2 linked regions of the Homo sapiens genome follow. The protein of the gene in region 1 interacts with the protein of each later gene in a pairwise test. Each region holds a gene or a part of one and is shown in the gene's direction. Other genes may lie near its edges. The genes, in order: TDP1 and DCLRE1B.

The links.
Region 2: the proteins of TDP1 (region 1) and DCLRE1B interact in binary tests that used the Homo sapiens proteins (3 or more experiments, as listed by UniProt).

Annotation. Positions count from the first base shown.
Region 1 is NC_000014.9:89,956,329-89,969,186, forward strand, and holds part of TDP1 (tyrosyl-DNA phosphodiesterase 1), read left to right. Parts: exon of another isoform or gene 1-249; 5' UTR 250-472; exon of another isoform or gene 473-2,069; intron 2,070-3,450; exon of another isoform or gene 3,451-3,678; intron 3,679-6,779; 5' UTR 6,780-6,786; coding exon 6,787-7,345; intron 7,346-9,818; coding exon 9,819-9,862; intron 9,863-11,038; coding exon 11,039-11,094; intron 11,095-12,858. UniProt on the Homo sapiens protein: DNA repair enzyme that can remove a variety of covalent adducts from DNA through hydrolysis of a 3'-phosphodiester bond, giving rise to DNA with a free 3' phosphate.
Region 2 is NC_000001.11:113,906,787-113,918,905, forward strand, and holds the end of DCLRE1B (5' exonuclease Apollo), read left to right. Parts: intron 1-209; coding exon 210-375; intron 376-1,222; coding exon 1,223-1,405; intron 1,406-4,344; coding exon 4,345-5,405; 3' UTR 5,406-7,300; downstream 7,301-12,119.

The DNA of each region.
Region 1 (12,858 bases):
CTTAAGCTTTCTGTGCTCGGTTTCCCAGTATAGGAGGACGGTCACGGTACGTAGTATAGAGTTGTCCTGAGGGTGAAGCGAGTTTACACTTGGTGAGGCGCTTCGAATCGTGCCTGGCCGGCCCCAAATGAGCACGCAGTAAGGTTAGCAGCTGCTGCCGTCACTTCCTCACGTTCTGAATCTGCTCCGTCCCCAACGCCTTCAGCAAGAGCCCTCTCACTTCCTTTGTCTTCAACCCATTCTCCGCAGAGTTGGAGCACACAGCTGTATTAAAAAGGCAAATCGAAGGCCGGGCGCGGTGACTCACGCCTGTCATCCTAGCACTTTGGGAGGCCGAGGCGGCTGAATCACTTGAGGTTAGGAGTTTGAGATCAGCCCGGGCAACATGGTGAAACCCCGTCTCTACAAAAATAGAAAAATTAGCCGAGCGTGATGGTGGATGCCTGTAATCCTAGCTCCTCGGGAGGCTAAGGTAGGAGAATTGCTTGAACCTGGGAGGCAGAGAGGTTGGAGTGAGCCGAGATTGCGCCATTGCGCTCCAGCCTGAGCGGCAGAGCGAGACTCTGTCTCAAAAAAATAAATGTAAATCGGACTCCCCTTCTTAAAGCCCTCAGTGGGGTCCCATTGATCATTGCATAAAATCCAATTTCTTTAACAAGTCTTCTCCCCTCACCCGCTTCGGACCACTGCCTGCCTTGCCTAAGTCCTTTCTTATGACCTCTTTCCCACCTCTGCCGGCTGGGTTCCCTCTACTTGGGAATGCTCTTCACCCCATCATTTAGACAGCAGGTTCCTTTTGGCCCTCTGGGTCTCATTTATATGTTACTTTTTAAGTATATTCCAAAGGTCACCCCTATTTTTCTGTCTCATACTTATAAAATGTAATGAATGTCTAACTCATCTTGGCTATTAAAATTTTTATGTGTGGGTCTGTCTCTTCTGCCCTGAAATTAGCTCTGCTAGGGTAGAAACTATATTGTTAACGCCTCATTCCCAGTTTTTGGTACATAATAGCTGCCCAGTAAGTTATTGAATGAATGAACTCCAGGGGGTAAGCATGATATCCATTTCACAGACTAAAAAACTGAGGCTCAGCAGTTAACTAACCTGCCCAAGTGCACATTTACTCCCTAGTCATGGCCGGGTTTGAGACAAGGGACCATGTTTGCCTATTACTGGCCACACAGGAACTCAATTGAGGAGCATGGCCTCCAGGCCCAGCTGATGGTCTTTAAGCTCAATGAGAAGGAGCAGCTGGAGGTGAAAGAGAAATGCCCCAGCTGGGTCTCATATAGTGGGGAGTGAGGAAACACTAGTAGCTCTAAATGGAGTACCCTTTTATATCCACAACATGTTTTAAAGTCCTTAATAAAAGTGCTAACAGTGTCCTGAGCTAGCATTTGGTGGGAAGATTTCTTAGATTTTTCATGTTAGTGCAGTGTTTGCCAAATTTCACTCACACTCACCTGCCTTCTCCCCAGTTTGCTTTATTCTCTTAACACATGACACAGGATTTATTTCAGGGCCGCTTTGCCAGCTGGAGACCTCCAGCCCTGGGCTGGCTGCAGGAGGTGCCCTGCCCACTCAGCCTGGCAGAATGCATTTGTCTTTCATCCCCGCCCAGATCCCGTGGCCACTATGACTGCATGCTCAGCCCGCGAGGAGTCGGTTTGTGAGTGAGTGAGCAAGCCTGGAGGCCCGGCTGGCTGTTCCAAGTGCTGGCCCAGTCACAGGCTCCATGTAGGGCTTGTGGATGGCCTGGGTGTATGGCAAGTGACTCTGGTAGCAGATTCTGGTGTCCAGACGAGGGGGATGCAGTAGTGCCCAAACACTTGGAGACACCAGGCAAATAGAGATGTATTAACAGCTCTTTTAGTCCCACCATCTGCAGCCCAATGAATGGGGGTGTGTGGCAGCCAGCAGCTCCCTCTCCCATTGCTTCACTAGCGGAACGGAGTGCTACAGGGTTATAGCTCTATTTGCACTCGCTGTTTAGCTGGTCCGAATTTCTTGTCCTGCGTCCAAGAATAATGAGGTTAGGCTGACAACCGAAGGGGAAAAGGGCGGAGGTGAGTTTTACTCAGTGATGAGACAGTTCTCAGCAGAGACGGGACCCCAAGTGGATGGCCCCTGCCCTGACCCCAAGGTGGGCAGTTCGCTGGTGTGACTGAGTCTGGGGCTTTTATGGGCTCAGAATGAGGGAGTGTGTGCTCCATGGTTTGTGAGTATGCAAAAAAGGCTAAAACAAAGGCACCACTCAAAGGTGGGCATGACAATGTAAAAAACCAATTAGGGAAGGGTAGATATATGTAAAGTAGGTGAAGGGTGGGGATTGATCAGAGGAAAGTGTGCCAAGTGGGAAGAGGGGTTATCAATCCGGTCCGTGGATTTACCCAACACTTGTAGCTTGGCTTTCAGGCTTTAAACTGTCTTTGGTTTGCAGGTGGGGTTTCACTGGGGCCCTGCCCCTATCTGCCTAGGGATTTGTCTGCCTCCTGCCGCTATCACATAGACTATCATATACTTAATATTTTTGTTTGAATCCAATCATTCTTTTACATAAAATAAACTTTATTTTGCTATTTCAAATATAACGTAGCCATAAGATACCTTCTGTTGATGGTAAACAAAATTGTTGGTGCCTGCAGAAGAGCCCAAACCCTGCTATTTGTTCAAAATCAAGATTAAAAGCATTTCTACAACACTACAACTTTCTTCTTGATTTAAACAGGGAGTTTGGATTGGAATGGAAAGGGAAGTACTTTCATAATGTCAGGTCCCAATCACTTCCACTTCAGGAAACACTGTGCCGTTCTGATTGAGTGCCAGGATTCAGAATCAACACAGCTATATTGTATTCTGATTCTTTCAGTACCACTTACAAAAAGTGTGACTTCAGATTTATGCTGTACCAAGCACTGCCCAGGCAGGGAAGACAGATGATAAACAATTGAAGGAAAGCTCTCAGGTTCTACATTTCTTAAAACTGTATGACTTGATTACAAAGCACTCTGAAATGCTGGGCACCAGAGCCTCTATGAGGGAAGTAAATTCTGTTACTGGTGACCAGTTATCCAAAGTAAAAGTTTGATATTGGTGTTTACTAGCAGTTCTTTTCCAACTGGGCGGGAGCCTTGATGTCATAAAGAGGTTGGTAAGCTGCTACATTTAACAACAAGACACAATTTTATTAGTCTGTTGCACTAAATTGTAACCCAATAAATTGTATTAGGTTGTAATAAGCAACTCAGGCATATTTTTGAGTTTCAGCAGGTCCAAAACTTTATAGAGCAGAACCCCAAAAAAAGGCTTTGTTCTCTAGAAAATGTCTTTTTTAAAGCTTTGTTTTATTTTTTATCCTCTTGTCCTACTTTGTTGGAGGGAATTCCACTTCCATATGGTTTTAGAAAATGGAGATAATGATAAAACTTAAAAACCTTTGAAATTCTCTAAATAATTCACAGAGTTGCTAAGGATTTTACCTTAGCAACTCTTAGTACATAATAATGTACTTAGCACAGAATTCTCAGTGTTTGGAAATTCCATTTTATTTATATAATGCAGGCAACCATATTTGTTATGGTAGCCTCTTAAGATTCTGCAACTGCTTCTGAGAGTGGAAGCTGAATCCTTTCTCACCAAAAACTAAGACCTGCTACTTACTTTAGAATGGGCAAGGTATCTATAGAGAACAGCCTGAGGACTGTAATGGAAGATTCTATTACTCACCGCCTTGGTTTAGAACTGTTGTAGAATTCAAAGGAACCTAGAGCTGACATTCAGAGAGTGGTTTTTCCTAAGGTGGTTCTTTTGTTCCTAGATAACTTTAAAGTCACGAAACTGTAGCCACTGAAATAGTTTCTTCAAAGTGTATTGTAACAGCTTAAATACCCCTATCCAGCAACTTCTAGACTCTAGAACACTAGAGGAACCTAAGGTTTTGTGGGTTTTTTTTTCAAACCGGAAGGATTAAAAACATTTAAAAAACCACCTCTGAGCTGCTTAAGTAGGTGTTGAGTAGTAAATCAATCTGAATCTCTTTCATGGAGGAAACTGGGCACTCAGACCCCTTTAACCATGACAATACAGTTCTACAAACCCAGTTATCTAGTTTCTTAACCCTTAGCAGATTAGAAACAATTTAGGGAAAATATACCTATGCTATGAGTTTTAACAACCCCTTGAAGTGGGCTGGACAGAGTGTAGAAATAAATAGAAACTTTTAGAAAGCAGATATGAGGGCTCAAAAGAGCCAGACAGTCTAGGGTCACTATTACAGGAGCAAGTGGCCCCAGCCCTCTCTACAGTCAATAAGGCTTTGGCTGTGAGATAGTGTGTTCATGCTGGGTAGGGTAATAATGACCCAGAGCCATGAAGAATGGGCCAGATTATTGTCTTGATGCATTCTTGCATAAAAGTTCCTTGAAATGTGTAATTTACAGAAGGCTTGCTTAACTTGACTGGTAGTTAATTGAAAAAGGTGAAGAGAGAAATTGTGAAAAGGGATAGATACCTTTAAAGTATTTCCAACCCTCCCCTGCCCCGCCCTGCTGTGTTCACTGAAAAAATCATGAGATCTATACATTTAGAAAGGAGAGCTTAGTTCTTATAAAGGGCTACAGCCTGCAGTGTGGCCTGACAGGCTGGGAAGCACAGCCTCAGGCAGAGACCTTTAATGGCATCCCAGGGAGGAGAGGGTAGAACAGAGATTTATACTGAATGGGTTGGCCAAGTATAGTATTCAACAGGTGTGGGAGGAGCTATGAATATTCACCAAGGGGGGACACGTGTGCATGTGTAATGAGCAAACGTGTGTTTTGTGCATCTCGTGTTCACTTTGGGATGGAGACTTAACATTTGAATGAATTACAATTAGGCCCTCTGTCAAAAGGTGAAGGAGAGACATGAAGGCACTCAGTGCTCAGCCTCTGAGGACTGGTCAGAACCAGTCTGTGGTTTCTTTTCAGGAGAAAGTTACTCCATTGTCCAATGACAGCTGCAGTCATGGCCTGTGGAACCAGAGGGGTCAGTTAGTCAAGCATCTGGCAGTAGGTGAGCTGCAATTGTTTAGATATTCCTTATCTCTAGGCCAGTGCTTATTTAGCTGCTGAAGAAAAAAGAACCTTGTGGAAGGTAGAACATAGTTTAAAGGTAGCAGTGTGTGATTTAACCCTTGCTTGGCATGGCCTTAGGTCTTGTTTATGATTTAGTGTCATATTGTCACAGAATCTATTCTGCCAGTCTTACGATCTCTGGTCAGTTGTGTTTAAACCGCAGAAGGGAGGGGATATAACAGGCATGTCTGAGCTCCCATCTCATCATGGCCCGGAACTCAGTTTTTAAGGTTTCTCTGGGGTCCCCTTAGCCAAGATTTTTATTTTTAGTTCTCATCTAGAGACATATGCATATGTATTGATTTGCAAATCTTTTGATGTAGAATAATGTTGAATTCTCTTTTTTGGGGAATGTAGGTTTTGTGAAGGGAGTGTCACCATCTTGGTTTACTCCACTCAATGCATCTTTTCCAGCCTCATTAAAACAGCAGAAACTCGAAGATACTGTTGATCTGAGCACAGACTACTGAGTTTTGTAATTTTCCCCTGGGTCTTGTGCTAAAATGTTAAAAGTATCACATTGAGGAACTGTTCTTTAGCTGTCTGGAAAGTCTACTTAGATAGTCCTTTACCACTGAATTGACAAGATTTGGTAGGTAACAGCAAAAGTGACTGTTTCGTGTACTTTCCTGTTCTCAGAACAAGAAAGTAGAATTTGACTGTGGGGCTTAAAAAATAAAAGTGTGTTGCTTCAGTACAAGTTATTTCTGTGTAGGTGTTAGTAGATTTATGATGTAGCCAATAGGATAATTATATCTTGATATAATTATATCCAACTAATTATAATTAGTTGGGTCCTCATGGAAGTAGTGTAAATAATGTACATACCTAAGTGGTCATTTGGCTTTCCTCTTGAAGACTTTGTTAAGCTTTATGGTAAATGGGTTGTCTTTTGGGAAGTAAGACATACATAATCACTGAAGTCCTGTGGGTGCCTGTACTTGGGTGAAGGCTAGGTTTGTAAATTCCAATTTGACCTTAAGCATTTGAACATAGATTAAATGGACCTTAATCCCAAACGCTTATTGGAAGTTTCGGGGTCAAGAATGAATGTTTGTTTTATTTTGGCATTTGTCTTGATGCATTCTTCAACCCCCTTTCCTAGGACATCTAAGAACAAAGTTTAGATTGAAAGCCAAGGCCAGGCATGGTGGCTTATACTTGTAATCCCAGCACTTTGGAAGGCCAAGGTGGGTGGATCTCTTGAGTCCAGGAGTTCAAGGCCAGCCTGGGCAACAATAATGAAACCCTGTCTCTACCAAAAAAAAAGAAAAAAAAAATTAGCCAGACGTGATGGCGTGCACCTGTAGTTCCAGCTATTCGAGAGGATGAGGCAGGAGGATTGCTTGAGCCCAGGAGGCAGATGTTGCAGTCAGCTGAGATTGAACCACTGCACCACTCCAGCTGGGTGACAGAGCGAGACCCTGTTTCAAAAAAAAAAAGGAAGAAAAAAGAAAGGTGACCAGGACTTTTGCTTGTGATTTGGCAGAATCTGATAGTGGATTCTGGTAATGTGCTTATAAACACCCAAAAAGCAGCTGATGTTAGGTGGTTCAGCCTCTGGAAGGTGTCAGCTCATCTGACAGGGAAGTTGAGAGCAATAAAGTTATTTTGCCAATGCCCTGATGAATGGGAAATGCTGATGTTTCCACTTTTCATTTCCAGGAGTATAATGTCTCAGGAAGGCGATTATGGGAGGTGGACCATATCTAGTAGTGATGAAAGTGAGGAAGAAAAGCCAAAACCAGACAAGCCATCTACCTCTTCTCTTCTCTGTGCCAGGCAAGGAGCAGCAAATGAGCCCAGGTACACCTGTTCCGAGGCCCAGAAAGCTGCACACAAGAGGAAAATATCACCTGTGAAATTCAGCAATACAGATTCAGTTTTACCTCCCAAAAGGCAGAAAAGCGGTTCCCAGGAGGACCTCGGCTGGTGTCTGTCCAGCAGTGATGATGAGCTGCAACCAGAAATGCCGCAGAAGCAGGCTGAGAAAGTGGTGATCAAAAAGGAGAAAGACATCTCTGCTCCCAATGACGGCACTGCCCAAAGAACTGAAAATCATGGCGCTCCCGCCTGCCACAGGCTCAAAGAGGAGGAAGACGAGTATGAGACATCAGGGGAGGGCCAGGACATTTGGGACATGCTGGATAAAGGGAACCCCTTCCAGTTTTACCTCACTAGAGTCTCTGGAGTTAAGCCAAAGTATAACTCTGGAGCCCTCCACATCAAGGGTAAGAGGATGCTGGGTGTCAAGGAGCTGTTGAATTGCCCTTGAGAGTCTCTCCTCCGTGAAACAAGGAGGGCAGCCTAGAATAGTTTCTGAGAACTCTTCTTTGTGTTCTTAACTACTTTCAGGAAAAAAATTCTTGACAGGCAAGTGCATTAGTATAACAGCAGACTGTTTACTTAACTCAGGCAGAGCGTGTGTTCTCAAAACCCTGTAGCTCAACCCCTTATATCACTTAGCACGATGTTTAGCATTATTTAACTTTTTAAGATGAAGCTTGATGAGTAACAGTTTATCAACAAGGTAGCAAATACTTGACAACAGTAGTAGTTCTCCATGGGCCCTGGACCAGCAGCCTCAGCATCACCTGCAACTTGTTAAAATGCAAATTCTCGGGCCCCATTCCCGATTCATTAAATTGGACTCTGAGGGTGAGATCCTGCAGTCTGTGTTTTCACGAGCCCTTGAGGGGATTCTACTGCCCAGTCAAGTTTGAGAACCACTGCTTAAAAGCCTGGTTTTAGTTCCTGGTGAAGAAGAAGAAGAAAAAACAAAATAGTGCCTGAGTGCAAATAGATGTTTCAGTTATGGATCAAAAGATGGCCTTAGTTTGCTCTCCTTATTCCTCAGGGAGCACCTGCAGGAGGAAGAGCAGGAGCTCTAGAATCTGCTTTCTGGCCTCACCACTCATTTGCTGTATGGATTGTTAACACAGGACCTAACATTCTCTGAATTTTAGTTTGCTCATCTTTAAACTGGAAATGCAGAAAAATGGGAGCAAATATATGAAGTAACCAGTGTAATATATTCACATGGCAGATACAATAAACATTATTACCCTTATTTCAGATTTTTTTCCTGTCCCATATTTAAGAATAGTAATGTTCACTGTCAGCAGTGTTGTTCTTTTTTTATATATCCAGTATATAATTGTATATTGTGTGTGATGTATACATGTTGGAGTATTTCATACTGTAGAGTGTTCTACAGGTTGTTTTCTTTTTGAGAATCTCTTATCTTGGTACTTTGTCAAGTTTTTTGTTTGTTTGAGACAGACTGACAAATATTTAGAGAATTTTGCCAAGTTTTGCTCTATATAATAAAATAACCGGCAATTAGCACCAAGGTATTGTGGTAACATGATAGGAGCTCTTACATATATTTTCTCCTTTAATCCTCAGGACAGTCTTATGAGTAGATGTTACAATCGTATTCCTTGGATAAATGATGCATCTGCACTTTAGAAAAGTGCCCAAGGTCGTAGAGCTGGTAATGACATTCTGGCATCAGAATCCATGCTGTTTGCTATAGCACTCTACCATGTGCCATAATTGTAGATGGCTTAGAAGATCTCATGGAGGAAGGGGGACTTCAAAAGGCCTTTGAAAGATGGGTAAAATTTAGAAGGGAAGAAATACATGCTGGTGGGGGCAAATGGAAGAATATTTGCAGTTTATCTCTGCAACTCTCCCAATAAGGTAGAACCTTCCTTAACAATTTTTTTGTTGTTGTTCTCTGAAAATCGTTCTACCCCAGCATCTAGCTCAATGTCCAGAAGATAGGAAGCACTCAGGAAATATTTGCCAAATGAATGAGCCAGTCTTAATTCTCAGAGGCAGTTTAGTGGGTATGAGCGAAGGTGCTGGAGCCAGACAGCCTAGGTTCAAACCCCGACTGTACCCCTTTCTAGCTGTGTGTCTGTGGGCAGCCTCCTAAGAAGGCTCCTCCGATATAAAATAGAAATAACAGACCCCACCTAGAAAATGGATATGAGGAGTAAGTAATGGATGGGAAGTGCCAAGAGTGCTGCCTGGCATCTAACAGGTCTCCACAGATGTGGCTGTTGTAATGGAAGGTCACGATGATGGTGTACTTGCTCTCGTGGTATGGTTTGAGAAGTGAGCTTTCAACTTACCTAACATAAAGCTTGAATGGGTACAAAGTGAGACTTCCCTAGAGATGACCAGGAACACCAGGAATGTGAGTTGATAATTGTGAGTGCCTCTGTCCTTTCATTCACAGGCCACAGGTGCTTTCCAGTCTTTCTGGAAAGTCTTTCTAAACTGTCCACATTTATAAAATCTTTCTAGAAAGTTTTTCTAGTCTTGAGTTGGGAGATTTCCTGGAGAGGGACTTGAATGGGTACTTGGAGGAGGTAGAAGTTCAGAGATCTGAAAAGAATATGTATCATTATTGTCCATATTGAGTTTCTAAACTTGATCAATCATTCAGTACTGAAGTTGTAGATTTTGGTTTTGCATTGTTTTATAAAAGAATGTATGATAAATATTAAATACCATAGGGAAATTTTTTTTGAATTTTATGAAACATTAAAGTCTGACTTTGTAGTAACTGTTTAGCTTACTGTGTTCTGAGTCAGATCTTGATTGTCAGTGACTGTTGAATGAGTTAGTAGTGATTATTATGACTAGAGGATTTTTGTGAGTGTGAATTTGATATATGTTTTGTCTTCTCAGATATTTTATCTCCTTTATTTGGGACGCTTGTTTCTTCAGCTCAGGTGAGTATACCTTTAAGCTGTTTTTTCTTTGGGTGAAAGTAGACAGGTAATTAAACAACTCCATAAGAAAATATGAGAGGCATAGTTTGGGGATCTCAGTCCTGTTCAAAGACTGAGATGGCACATACCTGGAGGCTGGCTCAAGTGCCACAGTAATGAGATCCATGGCCATCAACATAGAATGGGGATGTCACTATCAGGAGAGCATTTGACTCAAGTCAGCCTCCGCTGGCCAAGAAGTCACTTTGGACATTCCAGCTTGAAAGACTAGAATGGGACACTTCTTTTGGGGATACTGATTAACTCATGGGACTGAGTTAACTCTGGTGCATAGAGTGGTGAGGTATGGATAGAGTGGTGAAGGCCAAGTCAAGTTTGATTTAATTTAGAAAAATGTGAATTTTCATGTTCAGTGGCTCCTTCCTGACTGAGCTAGTCCCTTTGTCTTGATAAATCATGTAATGGTCCAGACCCACAAGTAAGTGGTCCAAAGGGCCCTGTCCCTGAAGAAAGGCAGGCTTCCTTTATGTTTGGTTTGGCATTGAAAGTCCTGGTTTCCATTTGGAAGGTGGGGAGCATTTGCAAATGCCCTGTTAGCTCGACTGAGTTACTAAGTCCAGGATTACCCAGGTATGGGGAGGAGCCTCCACGGGTAAGACCAGTACAGAACTTGCATTTAAGATGTAATTGTTAGAAGCCTAGTGAATGTCTGGTCCCAGGTGGCTGTGTACAAAGCTAGCTAATAAGTTAGCCTGAAAGGAAATGTTCTTTTCTGAAAGTCCTGGGATCTTTGTCTCCAGTATCTGTCTTTTTATAATCACCTAGGGGAAAAGGGATAAATTTATAAATCCTTTTATTTAAATTAATCTCAGGGCCATTAGACATAATGTAATAACACCCTGCGGACAAGTACAGATGCTGCCAAAACATGCAGAGATAATTTCCTGGGAACCTGTTATCTCATGTACTTGGCTCCATTTAGGTTCTTTTAACCATGCATTTAAGATAAATTATAGGTTTGTTAGTATTGCAGCATAACCCTCCAGGTTTATAAATAATACATGTAGTGTATCACTATTTTAGAGTTTCCTTAAATGTAATAACTAAACAATTCTCCTTATGAACTGTTTGGCAGAATTACCTATGGCTTAGTTACTCTTCTTTTCTCCCATCTAGTTTAACTACTGCTTTGACGTGGACTGGCTCGTAAAACAGTATCCACCAGAGTTCAGGTGAGTTCCTCAGGGTGACAGACAACACTATAAACTGTAAAGGGGCTTTGACACCTAAGATTTGTATTTCTCAGGTGAAAGCCACTCATCTTTTGAGTTTTTCTTTTGAAACTGTTGAAATCACACAGACATTAAGTTATATCCGGAAAACAGCATTCTTTGATCTATTTAATCCTACACATTCTTTTTACGGATTTTAGCATTTTCCTCTGTGCTCTTTCAGGAAGTAGATAAGGACAGGCTTTAACTCAAATAACAGAATTTCATGTCCAGTCTTAATATGAAGGAAAATACCATCTCCACATACCTTCTAGATCTGTGAATGTGCCAACATGCCGCCAACGTGCCATGCTTTCCGTAGCACATCAATTCTGTTCTGTTTTGAGGATCCCTTTGTGTTTCTGAGATGAGGAAAGGAGGCTTATCTGTGGCCTTCCCTTATCTAGGCTCTGGAGGTGATGGATTTTTAGGCCTTCTGCCTGCACTTCATCAGCCTCATGTTAGGCAATACAGACCAAATAGGGCATCACACAGGTGCCACCCTTCCCTATTTCTAACACATTTACGGGGCAGATTCCCATAACAGCAAGTAGGATGGAGGAAAACACACAAGAAATAATGATTGTCAGGGTCCTCAAAATTCTTGGTACATTTAGGGCATCAGATTGTGGAAACCTTTGACATTAACAGTAGATAAAATGCTGTTAAAATTTTTCAAGCAGCTTTGGCACTTGGGGCTTTTTTTTTTTTTTTTGACCTGTAACACACAGAATTAGTTTTAGCTGCATGTAAAAGAATATTCAAAATAACAATGGCTTAAATAAGACAAATTGTTTCCAGCGTGACACATTCAGATGGTAAACATTTATGGTCTAGATGGGGGCACCAGGGTTCTCAGAGACTTATCCACCTACCCTTTCTGTTCCACCATCCTTGTATGTGACTTCAGTTTTCAGAGTCACCTCGTGGCCCAGTATGGCAGCTAGAGCTCCAGCTTACTCATCTATTCCAGGTAGCAGGAAGGGGAAAGGAGGAAAAGGACAAAAAGGCCCACATTCTAGCTATGCCCATCTAAGCAGCCTTCCTGGAAGTCCCACACAACACCTGCATCTATTTCATTGAGCAGAGCTCAGCTGCATGCTAACCAGCTGTAAAAGAGGCTAGAAATGTCTTTTAGCTTAGCACACCTTTTCCTGAATTAGCCTTTTGTTAGGGAAGGAGGAGAGAATGGCTGTCTGGAGGCAACAAGCAGTTTCTGCCTTGGCTCCTCCTCGCAGTAGTATCCTTGGGTGTCACATTGGCATTTTCTGTTCTTCCTCCCTTTTCTTAAAGACCTTGAAATCAAACTGTCACCCCATTAGAGTGTTGGCAAAGTGCAGACTGCAGTTCCTTTGTATCTGTTATGAGTTAAATTATCTCACCCCCAAAAAAGATCTGTTGGAATCCTAAGCCTCAGTACCTCAGAATGTGATCTTATTTGGAGATAGAGCCCTTACAAAGGTAATCAAGATAAAATGAAGGCATTAGGATGGACATTAATCCAGTATGACTAGTGTCCTTATAAAAAGAGAAATTTGGGTGCAGAGACAGAGATAAGACCATGTAAAGACACAGAACGCCATTTACAAGCCAAGCTCCTAGAAGCTGGGAGAGAGGCTTGGAACAGATGTGCCTCACAGCCTCAGGAACCAATCCTGCCAGCACCTTGATCTTGGACTTCTCGCCTCCAGACCTGTGAGACAATATATTGCTGTTGTCTAAGCC
Region 2 (12,119 bases), on another chromosome or scaffold:
CCGGCCAGCTGAACTCTTAAATTGTACAAAGGGTGGGATGGGAAGTGGAAGGAGGAAGGGCAGATTGCTTGGGAATCCCCATTACAGCTTCTGCTCCCGGTGGCTCAGGATTTGGTCAGCTTTCCTGATTCATGTAAGGGATAGTCCCTGACCCGGGGAGGTAACGGAGAGGAGTCAGTGGTCACTGGGATGACTAACTGTTTTCTCAGGTATCTAAGCAATGGATCCAAGCCCTGGAGGTTGGTGAGAGCCATGTATTACCCCTAGATGAAATTGGACAAGAGACCATGACCGTAACCCTCCTCGATGCCAATCACTGTCCTGGTTCTGTCATGTTTCTCTTTGAAGGATATTTTGGAACCATCCTCTACACAGGTGGGCCTCTCAAGGAATCCCAGTGACTTCTCCAGACTAGATGTTTTTTTTTTTTTTTTTTTTTTTTTTTTTTAATGTATAGACTGGGGCCTCGCAGTGTTGCCGAGGCTGGTCTCAAACTCCTGACCTCAAGCAATCCTCCCGCTTCAGCCTCCACAGTAGCTAGGATTATTGGCACAAGCCACCACACCTGGCAGACTTTTCTTGAGCAGCCTTAACTCAATAGAAGTCTGGAGGCGCTGGAGGCCTTCTAACTTCATCACATATGAGCATAGTGACCCCATCTCAACTGATTTCCCACTGTTTTTTTTTCCTTCTTCTTTTTGAGACGGAGTTTCACTCTTGTCACCCAGGCTGGAGTGCAGTGGCGTGATTGTGGCTCACTGCAACCTCCGCCTTCTGGGTTCAAGTGATTCTCTTGCCTCAGCCTCCCAAGTAGCTGGGATGACAGGCGCCTGCCACCACGCCCAGCTAATTTTCGTATTTACTATTAGTAGAGACGGGGTTTCACCATGTTGGCCAGGCTGGTCTCGAACTCCTGACCTCAGGTGATCCACCTGGCTCGGCCCCCCAAAGTGCTGGGATTACAGGTGTGAGCCACTGCGCCTGGCCGATTTCCCACTCTTTAAGGGTCCGAACCTTGTGAAGAGTAATTGAAAAATAGGAGTAGGATGGAGACATTACAACAAAGAAACCATGCAGCTATACTGCCTAGTTCAGTGCCAGGCTACATAATAGTTTTTTCACAGACTAGTAAGCAAACGCCTGTCTATTGTTGGAGGTAGGAGAGGCTTGTCTTCTATTCTTTTGTCTCTGACCTTCTGCCCCCATGTACATATTCCTCCAGGTGATTTTCGATACACACCATCCATGCTAAAGGAGCCAGCCCTGACACTGGGGAAACAGATCCATACTTTATACCTAGACAACACCAATTGCAATCCAGCCCTGGTTCTTCCTTCCCGACAAGAAGCTGCCCACCAGATTGTCCAGCTCATTCGAAAACACCCACAACATAACATAAAGATTGGTGAGTTGTTTCCTTTCAGTTTCCTGTCACCTGTAGATAGTGAACTAGATTCTTTAAGGATTCTCACATCTTTCAGATCTTTGTGCAGTTCTCACTTTCTCCTACACTGACCACCTTATTTAAAATTGCAACCTGGCTAGGTGTGGTGGTTCATGCCTATAATCCCAGCACTTTGGGAGGCCAAGATGGGAGGGTCATTTGAGCCCAGGCGTTTGAGACCAGCTTGGGCAACATGGCAAGACCCTGTCTCTACAAAAAATTTAAAAATCAGTTGGGCACGATGGTGCGTGCCTGTGGTCCCAGCTACACAGGGGACTGAGACAGGAGGATTGCCTGGGTCCAGTAGGAGGTCAAGGTTGCAGTGAGCCATGTAAGTGCCATTGCACTCCAGCCTGGATGACAGAGCAAGACCCTGTCTCAATAAATGAATGAATGAATGAAATAAGTAAAACTGCAACCTGCCCACCATCCCCATTCCCAACTCCTGATCATCCATACCAATTCATTTTTTTCATTTTTTTATAGCACTCATATACTATATATATTTTTAAATATGCTATTGCTTACTTGTTGTCTATCATGCACTTCCTCTGGCCCATGCACATACGCGTGCACACACACACACACACAAGCATAAACTCCTTAAGAGCATCACTGGAAATGGGAAGAGACTTTGTGTGTTTGTGGAACAGAGAAGCAGCAGTCAGTATGACAGGCACACAGTGGGCAAGGAGGCTGAAAAGGCAAGAGGGGCTGAAGTGCTGTTAAGCCATTTTGGACTTGATCCTAAACCCAACCAAGAGCTATTGAAGGATTTTAAGTAGAAGAGGGACAATATGCACTCATCACCTTGCAATATATTCTATAATTTATGTATTTATTGGACTTTTTATTGTCTGATTCCCCCTGCTAGAATGTGAATTCCACTATGGCAGTCTCTGTTTTATTATGGGTGTATCACAAATGCCTACACTAATGCCTGACACAGAAGCATTCAATATGAATGAATGAAATTTATCAGAACATAGATATTTAAGTGAGCGTTGTGCTTTAAATTAAGTATACTGAAAAAACAGGTTTGTGCTTGTTGTACTGATTATAAATAGTATAAAACATTGTTGAGGACTCTTTCTTGGAGTTGCCATTTGGAATAGTTTATGAAAATACATTTTTGTTTTATAAAATAAATAAATGTAATAGATTTGGTTCTAAATTACTTTTTTGGTTGTTTCCAAATTTGTGAGTCTACAAAAGGACAAAGACTTGCCACCATTATAAATATTTGAAAAGGACATGTCTCAACTCTGAAAGGAGTTTCAAAATGAGACTAAACAAAGGCATTGAAAAAATTATATAACTTCCAGGGTGACTACCAAATCGATTGAGAAATATCCTCTACTCTCAGGATTGCTTAGCTACTTATAAAGACCTAACCATTCTTAATATTTTAATGCAGAATTTTCTCAAAAAAGCAAAGCTGGCTAGGAGGATGCTATAGTAAGCCTTAATTAATTTTGCAAATATGTAATAAGCCTCTACCCACTAAGTACCAAGTATCCAATAGGCAGTGGGGATATAAAGATGAATAAAATATAGTCTCTGACTTGGAGGGCTCACAGTCTGGTAGGGAAGGACCTGTGGGGAGGTGGAAGTGGGAATATATATAGAGAGAAGAAAAATCCGCTCCATTTGTGCCCAAGGAGTGAGATTTTGAACCATAATCAGGAATAAAGTGGATATAAATAATATATACTTCTTTTTATGGCGTTCACAATCTGGTTGTGGATTTGAAACTTCTTCAGAAAAAGTCTGAGAACAGCTATTAAACAACATCTCCCATATCTGTTACCATAACCATTTCCCAAATTAATGTCTCCATTTCTTTCTCTGTAAGTACTATTTGGGCCCTTCAATTGAAACTTCCACTCCAGCTTCTTCTCATCCTGGCAGTCAAATAATATTATTACCATATTTTTCTTTTTAAAGCCCTGCTCTGAGCATATTATTCTTATGATTAGAATTAGCCATTTTCCTGCTTCACACTCAGTGGCTCCCCTTCACTTACACAATGAAGTCCAAGCTTCTTAGCGGTACATATAAGACGCTCTATTATATGGCCCTTGCTTGCCTCTCTGGTATCATTTCTTATCAATTCCTTTTTTACTTTAGTAACAGCAAACTGACCCCTCTTAAAATGTTTTCCACTATACCCTTTCTACCCTTTCCTTGCCAGGTTAACCTTGCCCATCCTTTAAGATTTAGCCTAACGTTCCCTAACTCCATCACCTGTTAGATACAATACTGTATACTTTTTTTGTTTTTTTTTAAGAGACAGGGTCTCACTCTGTTGCCCAGGCTGGAGGGTAGTGGCATGATCACAGCTCACTGCAGCCTGGACCTCCCGGACTCAAGTGATCCTCCCGCGTCAGCTTCCTGTGTACCAGGAACTATAGGCGTGCACCAACATGCTTATTTGTTTATTTTTGTAGAGACAGGGTCTTGCCAGGTTGCCCAGGTTGGTCTTGAACTCCTGGGCTCAAGCAATCCTCCTGCCTCAGCCTCCTAAAATTGTAGGCTTACAGGTGTGAGCCACAGTGCCCGGCCTGTACACATATCTTTAACGTTGCTCTTAATTGTGGTTTTTCTGGGTCTCCTTGTAGATAGTACTTCTTGAGGACTGACAGTTTTCTTTATTAGTTTTCATGGTGCCTGAAACTTGCTAGATGCTCTCTTTTGTTGAACTAAATGAATGAGTGGATTCTGTGTCATTCCCTTTCATATGTCTTAGCTCAAATGCCACCTCTTCCTTGATATTCTCCCTGGATTTCTCCATGAATTGTATCTATTTTTGTTAAACATTTTGTTGATTTATTAGGATTTTCCAATAGCTTAATTTTCTTCCTTCTCTTACTTTCCCCAATACATTGAACATTATTTAGGACTCTACAGCCTGGGAAAGGAATCACTGCTGGAGCAGCTGGCCCTGGAGTTTCAGACCTGGGTGGTATTGAGTCCTCGGCGCCTGGAGTTGGTACAGCTACTGGGCCTGGCAGATGTGTTCACAGTGGAGGAGAAGGCTGGCCGCATCCATGCAGTAGACCATATGGAGATCTGCCATTCCAACATGCTGCGTTGGAACCAGACCCACCCTACGATTGCTATCCTTCCCACAAGCCGAAAAATCCACAGCTCCCACCCTGATATCCACGTCATCCCTTACTCTGACCATTCCTCTTACTCCGAGCTTCGTGCCTTTGTCGCAGCACTGAAGCCTTGCCAGGTGGTGCCCATTGTAAGTCGGCGGCCCTGTGGAGGCTTTCAGGACAGTCTGAGCCCCAGGATCTCCGTGCCCCTGATTCCGGACTCTGTACAGCAATACATGAGTTCTTCCTCTAGAAAACCAAGCCTTCTCTGGCTGTTAGAAAGGAGGCTAAAGAGGCCGAGAACCCAAGGTGTTGTGTTTGAATCCCCTGAGGAAAGTGCTGATCAATCTCAAGCTGACAGAGACTCAAAGAAGGCCAAGAAAGAGAAACTTTCTCCCTGGCCTGCGGACCTTGAAAAGCAGCCTTCCCACCATCCTTTGCGGATCAAGAAGCAGTTGTTCCCAGATCTCTATAGCAAAGAATGGAACAAGGCAGTGCCTTTCTGTGAGTCTCAAAAGAGGGTGACTATGTTGACGGCCCCACTGGGATTTTCAGTGCACTTAAGGTCTACAGATGAGGAGTTTATTTCTCAAAAAACCAGGGAGGAAATTGGTTTAGGGTCCCCCTTGGTACCCATGGGAGATGATGATGGAGGTCCAGAAGCCACAGGGAATCAGAGTGCCTGGATGGGCCATGGTTCTCCCCTGTCCCACAGCAGCAAGGGCACCCCTCTTCTAGCTACTGAATTCAGGGGTCTAGCACTCAAATATCTTCTGACTCCAGTGAACTTTTTCCAGGCAGGGTATTCTTCCAGGAGATTTGACCAGCAAGTGGAAAAATACCATAAACCCTGCTGAAGACAGGAGAGTACAGAATGACAACATTGAGCCCACACTGCAGTTTTGAAGATAGTAACTGATGGCTGGTGGGAAAGAGTTTGTTTTTGGGGCCTACTTTTCTATCTTTACAAGACTCTTATGGGCCCACCGTGGAGCAGCACTTCCCAAAACTTGTTCACTGGGGTCCTCGTGCCTATGGAATCCTTCTTTTTATAACTAAGTTTAAGAAATACTTTTTTTATAAAATCTTTGGAGTATGCGTGAGCAAATTAAAAGTTCTTTGAAGTCCTACAGTAACTTAATCTGTTTAACCTTGTTTAACCCAGTATTTCTCAAACTTTTGTGAACATGCAATCATCTTATGTGGGTACAGAAAGAGGTAAAGAGTCTGAATCAAAAAGGACCAGGTTATTGCTGTTGCTGTTTTGTGGTGTCATGAGCCATTCTCCATGTCCCCTTCTCCCTCTTCTCAGATCAAAATCCCTAGGGAGTTCTATTTTTAAAATTATGAACTATGGCGCTGCATGCTTCAATCCTGAACGTCACTGACTTGCTGTGACCATCCAAATAATTTTCCTGTCTCTGCCTCTGGGAGGGAACAGGAAGCGATGAAGAGGTCTTGGAACAGTAGTGAAAATTCTACCTCTATGTCCTTCATGAGGATGTGCAGTATCCCAGTATCACTGGGATCCATGTGGAACAGAGCCAGCTGGGGGGTTGGGCAGCTCTCTCCAAGGCAGTACCTAGAGCCCAGCTGAACAACAAGGCTTTGGGTGTGAAGGGACTCCCCAGCCTGGAGACCCTATTTGGCTGAAACAGTTACAAAATATCAAATGTGTTGTCAGATATTCCTCCAATTGTTCACATAGCTGGGATATTTGTTGCTCCCCTCACCCCTTGGATTATGTAGGGAGCCAGTGCACACAGCCTGTTTGTTTTAGTATCCAAGGAAGAGACCAAGGAGCCAGCTGGCGGGAAGGGGTGGGGGTGTGCAGTCTGCCCTGTCCTTCTGCTCATAACCTGACAAAATGCCAAACTAGTAAGCAGGATAGCTGATACCACGGCTATGAGGGAGTAGGCTCTGAGAGGGCACAGACTTGTGGAGCTGGGCGTCTGGATCAAAACTGCTTTGGGATGGAACCTCGAGCCCTAGCAGTGAAGAAGATTCCATTTCTTGTCCAGGGGATTTAAAAGAGTTTTCTGCTTTGAGAGAGAAATAGAGAGTTTAGAAAGCAATTGCTCTTGGGAAAGCTATACACAGCTCTGTTTTGTCAATGACCTTTGTTGTAAGTCTCCCAACGTCCTATTAGGAGCCACAGCAGGTGAGGCATTTGGTGCAGCAGGAAACATGGGGACTGCCTAGGCTCGAATCTGTGGCACCCTGAGCAATTACTTAAATTGTGGAGCCTAGTTCCTCATCTGTAAGATGGACTTGAGATTCCTACCTCTCATGATTACTATGGAGATTGAATAATTGGTAAAATTCTCCTAGCTCAGTGACTGCCACAGGATGGGTCTTTCAGATTTTGGTTCTCTTTAGCTTCTGGTTCTTGAAAGAAATTAATCTGTATATAACATAAGAAACTTTGAAAGTCAAAAAAACAAAAAATTTTAATTCCTCGTAGATTAATTGATTTGCTATCTTTTAGTTTTTTTTTCTATGCATGTAGATGTATTAAATATGTAAATGTTTTTCAAAGTTGAGGTAATATTGTATAGAATTTTATAGCCTACATTTTAATTTCTTGATATCTTAAGCATTTCACTTATTAGATATTGTTCAAAAATGCCATTTTTAATATTTGTATAATACCCTATCATGTGAGTATACCTTAACTAAGCCATTCCCATATTCAACATTTTGTGTACTGTTTTTCTAATTACATATATTACAATGAACAACCTTATGCATATATTTTGCATTTTTATTTCCTTAAAGTAAATTACTGGAGTTAGATTATAGTTTTAAGTTCTTGATACCAATTGTGCTGAATTGCCCTCCAGAAAGGTTTCCTGACCATCTTTTCTGCAGACAGGATAGCATTAAAATACCTTGAAGACTCATTAGTTTAAATGAGATCACAAGAACGGTACATGTTAACACATGGAAAATCATCTCATGTGTTAACTTAATAAATAGCTACTAAACTGTGTGGGCAAATTTAGCTGGACTTCCTCTAGCATCCTCTAGCTGTCTGACTTCTAGGCGGCCGAAGGTGGCTGGGAGAGATAAGGTAGTTCTCAGTACAGGGGTTCCCATATTGGCGTTATCTTCTAGCAACAAGGGAGCCCGTCTACTCTTGGCACATGCTGTGTCACACCTGTTCCTTCAAGTGGGTTCTATATGCATTCAGATAGGGGAGGGGAAGCAAAAGACTTTGAGGAATTTAGTTGTTGGTAGCATGTTTGCATTTGTTTGTTTGGCTTTTTTTTGGAGACAGGTTTTAGCTCTGTCACTCAGGCTGGAGTGCAGTGGCACAGCCATAACTCACTGCAGCCTCGACCTCCCAGGCTCAAGAGATTCTCCCACCTGAGCCTCTTGAGTACCTGGGACTATAGGCATGCACCACCATGCCCAACTAATTTTTTTTTTTTTTTTTTTTTGTAGAGATGAAGTTTCACTATGTTGCCCAGGCTGGTCTTGGTGTTGAACTCCTGGCCTCAAGTGATCCCCCCTACCTTGGCCTCCCAAAGTGCTGGGATTACAGGCATGAGCCCGTGTGCCCAGCCATGTTTGTGTTTTCATAATGGGAAAATTCCATACTATTCTAAAAGAAAAAATGTCTGCCTTCTTATACTAGAGATTAGCAGTTGTTTGATTTTCCAATAGTCCCTCATATAAAAATGCTGCATTGCATATACTTTACATAGCCAATTTAAATTATTTTTAGAATCTAAAGATGATCCTATAGATGTATGAAGATATTGCAATTAGGCTTGAAGGTGCTGGGAAAAAGGAGGTTCCCTAGAGATCCATTAGTTATTTAATGGATGATCTGTGGGAGAACTTGTACTTTTCCACAAGGTGACTGACAATGGCTTAAGTCCCCTTACAGAAAAAAAATCTGCCTGGCTGGTGTTGGGAGGCCATCTCTTACTCTTGACCCAGATTGCCCTTTGTGGTAGGAAACAGATGAGTGACTCCACTTGTTCTTCTCTTTTCTTTTTCTTTCTTCCTTTCTTTTTTTTTTTTTTTTTTTTTGAGGAGTCTCACTCTGTTGCCCAGGCTGGATGCAATGGCACTGTCTTGGCTCACCACAACCTCTGCCTCCTGGGTTCAATTCTCTTGCCTCAGCCTCCCAAGTAGCTGCGATTACAGGCGTGCACTGCCACACCTGGCTAATTTTTGTATTTTTAGTAGAGATGGGGTTTCACCATGTTGGCCAGGCTGGTCTCGAACTCCTGACCTCAGGTGATCCGCCCACCTAGGCCTCCCAAAGTGCAGGGATCACAGGTGTGAGCCACCGTGCCCAGCCCAGCCCATGTGCATATATTTTCGATGTTACCATCAGTGAGCACCTGTCAGTGTATTAGCTGCCTCCCACCCCTCATGCTCCTCAGCCACCACCAACCACCACAAGCTGTTTTGTCTTAGACTCATGGTGCTTTCCCTTTTCTCTTCCCCAGGGGATCCCACCTATACCTGAACAGAATGATGCTGCTCTCCCTTATAAACATCTGAGTCTAACAGCTGCCTGTGAGGGATTCTCAGAATGGTTAAGCTTGTCTTTATCTTGACCACAATGCCTACCCTTCATTTAGCTCTACCCTTCCATCTTGACTGTCTCATTCCTGGGTAACTTTGTCTTCTTTGAACATAGCCTTGACCTACTGGATCACAAAAAGCTCCCAGGATTCTGGGCTTGGTTCTTCTGGATAAATAGCTTATTGAATCATCTTTCAATCACACAAAATTTCTGGCTAGCCTTGGGTTCGCCTGTGTCTTACATTATTTACACTATTGTATTATGGCTATCTTACCAGTCCTGTCTCCTCTGGTTAATTTATAACAACTTTGGAGAGTGTGGGATGAAAAATTGGTCCCCTGTGCTACTCCATCCTCAATGTGCTCATTGAAATGTGTGTTTTTGAGGAGCGAAGGAAATTGGGTTAAGCTCACTCACCCTACTAATTAGGCTTTGTGGAGACAAAGCACCAGAGCAAGAGCAGATGCCTGCTGTTTAGGGAGTCAGGGATACAAAGTTTGGAGAAAACATGTCTTCAGGAGGAAAGGAAAGCTTTGATCAGCTGAATTTCTTCAAATTCCCACCCATCTTCCAGGCTCATACCATCTGCTTTCTAATTTCCCTCTCAATGGTGGGATAAAAATCCTTCAATCACCTCTTACTAAGAACATTTTCTCTGCTCATACACATTCAAGAACCCAAACTATTCAGAACATTTTAGGTCCACATGATACAAGGCCCAACCTATCCTTCCAGCCTTATCTCCCAGGATTCTCCCAGTGCACACAATAGTAGGCCATAGTGGAAAAGATGGATTTTCAAGTTAGATGTCTTGGGTTGGAATCGTGATCCTGTGACTTACTAGCTGTGTATATAATCTCTAGCAAGCTACTCAGCTTTCCAGCTTAAAGTTCCTTTTTGTAGAGTGGGAATAATAATGCCTACCTCATAGGGTTTGGAGGAGAATGAAATAGAATAAAGCAACTAAAGCACTTCATAAGAGTATCCAATACATTAAAAAAAAAAAAAAGAAAGAAAAGAAAAAGTTTTTGCCTTTGGCTGGGTGCAGTGGCTCATGCCTGTAATCCCAGCACTTTGGGAGGCCAAGGTGGGCAGATCACCTGAGGTCAGGAGTTCAAGACCAGCATGGCCAATATAGTGAAACCCCATCTCTACTAAAAATACAAAAGTTAGCCGGGAGTGGTGGCATGTGCCTGTCGTCCCAGCTACTTGGGAGGCTAAGGCAGGAGAATTGCTTGAACCAGGGAGGCAGGTTGCAGTGAGCCGAGATCACACCACTGCACTCCGGCATGGGCAACACAGCAAGACCCTATCGCAGAAAAAAAAAATGTTTGGCCTCAAACTCCCTGACATACCTTAAATCCTGTTTACAGAGGAGTGACTGACATGTCCAGTGCATGCCCTGGATAGTGCCATTGGCTAATCCTATCTTTCAGGCCCAGAAAAATCTGAGAGATTGGCTGATGAAGGTACTTCCTGGGGGAGAGGTTCCTGGAGTCAAGTCTAACCAAAAGGGCAGTTACCTGAAGCATCCAAGGATGCATTTGTACAGATGGAAAAAGAGTAGGGTGAAATCATGATAAGCTTCAGATGCTGTGCTGAGTAAATTTAACTGTAAAATCCTAAGGCAAAGCCAAAACACCTCAGAAGAATAAGTAGTTAATCAGAGGCTCAGAGAATCCAAAGAGGTGTGCAGAGCAGAGCAGTCTGGGCTGTGCATTTCAAAACATTGTGGGTAAACTAAGGGCCAGACACTATGCTTGGTCTGGTTCTAGATTCTTCTGCCACACCAGCTGTATAAACCAACAACCTTGGATCAGTCCTGGAATTCTCCTTTTCAACTCCTACAGAAGGAAGGCAGAGCCACTGGAGAAAAGAACCATACAACTGGTATCACTACAGATTTCAGCCTCTGGTATTTTCAAAGCTGCTTCTCATCTCTTTAAGTCCTTGATTCACCTCCTCTCCCATGTACATCAGTGGTTATGACAAAGCTTTATGACTCAAACTCTTACAACATATGAAGCCTTAGGAAGACACCTTTGAGCATCAAGGATACCAAGCTGCAACACCCTGGGGCAACTTCCCTGGACCATAAGAACAGGTCTGGTCACCCAGCCTCACCCTAAAGGTGGCAGAATGAATCCCCCATACCCTGTTTAAACCGCAGTCACTGTCAGGAGTTCAAGTCTTTAAGGCCGGATTCTCAGCCTTCCCTCCCCTCTTTCACTAGGCTCTCAAGTCTCCTGCTCTGTGATCAGCAAATTCCTCTATGTCCTCAGCATCTTTTCTGAAAGTATCCATCACCCTCCTTGCCTAAATTGAAGACTGGCTCTCCTCTGAGCACACTGCTTTCCAGCCAGCTTCTCACATAGAGGCTCTTTTTCTCTCCCCCCACCTCAAGGTAAGAAGGTGACATTGATGTTCTCCTTATTCTCCTTGCTGCCTCCTAACCATTATTGCCATTTCTTCCTGTGACCATCTCTCCTACCATGAAGTGCATACTATCTAGCTATACCATCCCCTCCTTCCCATCCTCACTTATCAAGACTTGAGTCATTGACTCACAGCCTTCTCCTCCTTCACAACCCTGTCATCATTCTGGATGATTTCAATACCCTGGCCATTCAGCTTCCTTGACCTCATCTTCAAAGACCTTATTCTCCCTCTACCTCACCACCCTGTCATTACCAGAAATTGTACTACATCTGAAGCCTCAATTTTAAACTTTTTCTCCTGGCTTATTTGCTCAAGTGCATCTGTGGGACTGACAACAAAATGAGACCTGAGTGATGAGCCAGCCAGGTGAAGACCTGGTGGGGAGGTCTAATTTAAAAATTGTTTTTGTAGAGACGAGGTCTCACTGTGTTGCCGAGAGTAGGGAATAGGTAGAGGGTTCAGGCAGAATCAGCCCCTGGGATAGGATGGGAATGAGCTTTGTGCCTAAGGAACATGAAGAAGTGAGTGTAGAGAAATGCAAATCAAAACCACAATGTGGTACCATCTCACACCTGTCAGAATGGCT